Linked DNA regions of Homo sapiens: region 2 is linked to region 1. Evidence: fine-mapped expression QTL. A gene starts in region 1. The other region holds a variant in brackets. All regions are shown on one strand. Distances are between the middles of the regions. Region 1 holds the start of PRSS22 (serine protease 22). Region 2 has its middle 11 kb from the start of FLYWCH1.

What was found. PIP is the estimated chance that this variant, and not a neighbour inherited with it, causes the effect.
Region 2: its variant is the best candidate, but not a certain one, in a credible set for the expression of PRSS22 in whole blood (TOPMed, PIP 0.63).

The regions. Positions count from the first base shown.
Region 1 is chr16:2,856,728-2,859,729 of GRCh38, reverse strand. It overlaps PRSS22 (serine protease 22), which reads left to right and starts at 1,560. Exons shown (of 6, transcript NM_022119.4): 1 at 1,560-1,707; 2 at 2,882-2,908. The coding sequence starts at 1,626. RefSeq lists enhancers at 374-973, 974-1,574, 1,575-2,175.
Region 2 is chr16:2,899,418-2,901,917 of GRCh38, reverse strand. No RefSeq gene overlaps it. Among named protein-coding and RNA genes, the nearest start is that of FLYWCH1, 11 kb to the left of the region's middle. The variant C/GC (reference allele first, on the strand shown) is at 1,076.

The DNA.
Region 1 (3,002 bases):
CACCTCCTCCAGGCTCCCGAAGCCTCCATGAGGGCAGTCCCAGCAGCCACCCCCAGTGTTGGGGTGCAGGTCCGGCTCCACCACTCACCCAGCAATCTCGGGCAAGTCACTTAACCGCCCTAAGCTGCCTCAGTTTCCTTATCTGCAGAGTGGGAATAATAAAGACATTTGAGGATTAGGAGGCAATGCATGGCACTCCTAAATGTTTGCTCTATTATATAAATACTATATTTATATTTGTATAAATATATTTATTACATACATATTCACTACTATGGTTTTTTTTTTTTTTTTTTGAAACAGAGTCTCGCTCTGTCGCCCAGGCTGGAGTGCAGTGGCGTGATCTCAGCTCACTGCAACCTCCGCCTCCCAGGTTCAAGCGATTCTCCTGCCTCAGCCTCCCAAGTAGATGGGACTAAGGGCGCCTGCCACCATGCCTGGCTAATTTTTTTTTTTTTGTATTTTTAGTAGAGACGGGGTTTTACTATGTTGGCCAGACTGGTATTGAACTCCTGACCTCATGATCTGTCCGTCTTGGCCTCCCAAAGTGCTGGGATTACAGGAATAAGCCACCCCACCCAGACACTATGGTTGTTTTTAATTCACCCCCGGCGGTAGCAAGGGCCCTGCTGGAGGCTTGTTGATCGAATGAGTGAAGGGGCGCAGGCTCCTGCCTCTTTGTAGAGGAGGAAGCCTGCCCTGCTTGGGTGGGAGTGTCCCAAGTGTGGGGCGCTGCAGGGCACTGAGTCAGGGAAGGTCTCACAGGATTCAGCCCCGGGTTGCCACTGTGGCAGCCGCTGGGGGGAAGCACCGAGAATCCACTCCCAGCCCAGGACCCGGCCCCCCACAGCCCAGCCCAGCAGCTCTTTGAATCCTGGGAGTCCCAGCCCTTCCCGGGGCCCCTCTTCTCTCAACCCCCCTGCTTGGCCGAGCCCTGGTGCCCATGGGCTCCTCCCCTTCCCAGGAGTCCAGGTGAGGTGAGTTGTCAGGTGTCTGAACCGCAGGGCAGAGCCCCGCCTCCAGGAACGACAGGAGGGCGGCCACCAGGAGGCCACCAAGGTCGCCACTCACCTGATTCACAGCTTTCGGGAAGTGGGTTAACGGGATTCCCAAGCCCGGGTTGCGCCAGGTCTCTGGGCTGAGTCACAGGGGCCTGGGGCCCTGCAGGTGGGAGCCGTTACTGAGCTTTGGGCACCCCCTTGATCCCTAAGGCCCTAGGACCACCCCCAACACCCAGTACCCCAGACTTCAGCCTCTCCAAACCCAGGCCCTCCCCAGCCCGGAACCCCTTCCTTTCAGTGCCCTGGCACCTTTCTCTGCCCCTGGACAATTAATGTCAGGGACCTCTGGGCCCAAGCCCCCTCCCCTGCCCTTCCAGAGGCCACATCCTGGGGTCTCAGCTAGAGCCCCCCCAGAGCCCTGTAGCGGCTGGCTTCCTCCCCGCAGCCCCGCCCTCTGCCCAGGACCCACAGCCGGGGTGGCCGCGGGAGCCACCTGGGGACTGGTCTGACGGCATTCCGCCTCCCAGGATAAAACCTGGGGCGACCTGCAGGGAACCTACACACCCTGACCCGCATCGCCCTGGGTCTCTCGAGCCTGCTGCCTGCTCCCCCGCCCCACCAGCCATGGTGGTTTCTGGAGCGCCCCCAGCCCTGGGTGGGGGCTGTCTCGGCACCTTCACCTCCCTGCTGCTGCTGGCGTCGACAGGTACGTCCGGAGGCTGCTCCTCCCTCCTCCCTCTCACCTCCACCCTCCTTCCCTCCTTCCCTCCCTCCCTCTCTCCCTCCTGGCCTTGCCTCTCTCATCTCCTTTCCGCTTCTGCTCTGTTTATCTCTTGCTCCTTAACTGCTCTGTGCCTCGGTTTCTTCTACGGCTGTGAGGATGAAACAGAAAACGCAGCAAGTACGCAGCGCGCCTCGGTCTCCAGTTACCGTCGGCGTCGCCATCGCCTGCTCCCTCTCGCCTCCGTGTTCTCCCATCTCCTCGTCCTCCGCTGCTTGCCTCTGGGGAAGCACCGTTTTGTGTTGTTCCTGCCGCAGGAGGTCAGGGGAGGGCACACCAGCGGCAGCAGCGTCCAGAGCCGAGGGGCTCAGGTCTGTGCCTCCCTCGAGGAGCCGGTCCTGGTCCCCGGAAGGCAGGCTGGACGGGAAGCTGCGGGAGGGCAGGGTCACAGCTGTGCAGCCAGGGCCTGGCCAGGCCCCAGGAAATGCCCCGCCGGTAGGGGCCCTGGGGTTGAGAGACTTGAGAGTCTCCCTGGGCACTGGAGGGCTAGAGGTTCCTCACCACCAGGTACTCAAGGGGACCCCCTCCTCACTGGGCGCTGGGACGCCTGCTCACTGGGCGCTGGGACCCCTCCTCACTGGGCGCTGGGACCCCCTCCTCACTGAGCGCTGGGACCCCCTCGTCACTGGGCGCTGGGGACCCCTCCTCACTGGGCGCTGGGGAGCCCTCCTCACTGGGCGCTGGGGACCCCTCCTCACTGGGCGCTGGGGAACCCTCCTCACTAGGCGCTGGGGAGCCCTCCTCACTGGGCGCTGGGGACCCCTCCTCACTGGGTGCTGGGACCCCTTCCCACTGGGCACTGGACCCCTTCTCACTGGGTGCTGGGGGCTTCTCGCTGGGCGCTGAGGGACCCTCCTCACTGGGTACTGGGACCCCTCCTCACTGGGCGCTGAGGGACCCTCCTCAGGGGGTGCTGGGACCCCTCCTCACTGGGCGCTGAGGGACCCTCCTCACTGGGTGCTGGGACCTCCACCTCACTGGGCACTGGGATCCCTTCTTACTGGGTGTTGGGGGCCTTCCTCACTGGGCGTTGAGGGCCCCTCACCACTGTGTCCTGGGGCCCCTCACCGGCCTAACCGTTTCCTTCTCTTGCCCTCAGCCATCCTCAATGCGGCCAGGATACCTGGTGAGTGGAGCTGGCAGCTCTGACGGGAGGGAGAAGGGAGGAGGCCCACGCGCAGGCAGTGTCTATGTGTCCGTCCCCTGGGCACAGGTCAGAA
Region 2 (2,500 bases), 42 kb before region 1:
GTGATCTCAGCTCACTGCAACCTCCACCTCCCGGGTTGAAGCCATTCTCCTGCCTCAGTCTCCCGAGTAGCTGGGACTAGAGGCACCCACCACCACACCTGGCTAATTTTTGTATTTTTTTTTAGTAAAGACGGGGTTTCGCCATGTTGGCCAGGCTGGTCTTGAAATCCTGACCTCAGCTGGTCCGCCCGCCTCAGCCTCCCGAAGGCAGGGATTACAGGCATGAGCCACTGCACCTGGCCTATTATTTCAATTTTAATATCAAATTGCTAACACTAGGCTGGGCACGGTGGCTTGTACCTGTAATCCCAGCACTTTGGGAGGCCGAGATGGGAAGATCGCTTGAGCCCAAGAGTTTGAGACCAGCCTGGGCAACACAGCGAGACCCCATCTCCTCAAAAACTCAAAAAAGTAGCCTGCCTGTAGTCTCAGCTGCTCAGGAGGCTGAGGTGGGAGGATGATTGCTTGAGCCTGGAAGGTCTGCTGCACTACAGCCTGGGCAACAGAGCAGGACCCTGTCCCTGTCTCGAAAAAAAAATAAAAATAAAAGTAAAAATAAAAAATAAAGAACAGGAGAGGGGCTCCGGGATATGGGTGGCAAAAAAAGGCAACATGGGGTCCTAACCTGGCCATTTTTGTCCTCACTGCTCACTGGGATGTGGTGTGGATGATGCTGGGTGATATCACGGAACCAGCGGCGATCCTCTCAGGCACACTCGCATTAACATGGCTATGACTGGGAAGGGTGTGCTCAGAGGTGCAGGCAGAATGGTTTTGGAGTCTGCTGCCTGCATTTGGATGGTTTGGCAAAAGAGAAGTGTGTGGAGGAGAGACAGAGGGAGGGAGAGAGAAAAAAGAGGAGAGAGAGAGGGAAGGAGAGCCGGGGAACCCAGGCCAGGGCGATACAGTATGCACTGCGTGCTCCTGCAACTTTTATGCTCCAAATGTTTCAAAATAAAACCAGAGGGTGAGGAAAACAGTGATGTGGCCAGGCCCAGTGTGCAGGCTCCAGCTCCCCAGTATGCGTCTCCCTCCCGGCCGACTGCCAGCGCCACTGAAAGACTCAGGCCCAGGG[C/GC]ACCTTTGTCATTCCCCCAACTCCACTAAAAGGTGGCAGCAAAAATGCTCCCCCGCTCCCGGCCCTGCTGCTCCACAGCCACCCCTCACTGCTGGGTAAGGCTTCCCAGGCAACAGCAGGAGGGGCCCGATGGTGCCACACTGAGTACAGGGCAGACGCGCCCCACAGTGACCCTGCCCTCTGACCCACCCCGGCCTCCTCTTCCTCACTCCCACTTCTTGAGGTTGCACCCGAAACGTCCTGCCCTGACATCCTCAGGTGTCCTTAACATCTGACAAGAACAGACAGCCAAGGGTACTTGGGAACAGGCCTGGAGCAGTGGCTCACACCTGTAATCCCAGCACTTTGGGAGGCCGAGGCAGGCAGATCACCTGAGGTCCAGAGTTCCAGACCAACCTGGCCAACATGGTGAAACCCCATCTCTACTAAAAATACAAAAACAGCCAGGCATGGTGGTGCGCACCTGTAATCCCAGCTACTTGGGAGGCTGAAGCAGGAGAATCGCTTGAACCTGGGAGGCGGCAGTTGCAGTGAGCTGAGATCACACCACTGCACTCCAGCCTGGGCTACAGAGTGAGACCCCATCTCAAAAAACAAAACAAAACAAACGAACAAAAAAACACTTGGGAAAGGAGAAAGCATGGTGGAGAACACAGAAACCATCTGAATATAAAATCAGGGCCAGGCATGGTGGCTCATGCCTGTAATCCCAGCACTTTGGGAGGCTGAGGCAGGCAGATTACCTGAGGTCAGGAGTTCAAGACCAGCCTGGCCAACGTGGTGAAACCCCATCTCTACTAAATATATAAAAATTAGCCGGGCGTGGTGGCGGGCGCCTGTAATCCCAGCTACTCAGGAGGCTGAGTCAAGAGAATCGCTTGAACCCGGGAGGTGGTGGTTGCAGTGAGTCCAGATCGTGCCACTGCACTCCAGCCTGTGCGACGAGTGAAACTCCGCCTCAAAACAAACAAACAAAACCCTAACATTGCCTTGAGCCCAGAGGCAGTTGTCAAAGAATGAGGACTCATGGGAAGCCTCCTGGAGGCTCGCTGACTTGGGAGCTCAAGTAGGGTAGCTGTGCTTCCTTCATCTCCCCTCCAGCAGGGATGGCACCCAGGGGGCCAGGGCAGGAACTCAGGTTTCCTCAGCCCACAAATCCCCTGGAAAAAACATGACAGGCAGGCCGCATGTGCTTTTGTCAGGTTCCTCCCTGAACCCACCCATGAGCTGCAGGCCTACCTCTCCCTCAGCAGAATCCTGGAGCTACCATTCTCAGCAAGCCTGAGCTCCCTTAGTGCCTGGGAGCTGTCAGTCTGGGAGGCTTCATGGAGGAAGCGAGACTTGGGTCAGGGAGGGCAGTGACTAAGGGGCACTTTGGAAGGGCCCAGTAAGGGCTGGGGTGCGGAGACCCAGGGGTGGTGGCAT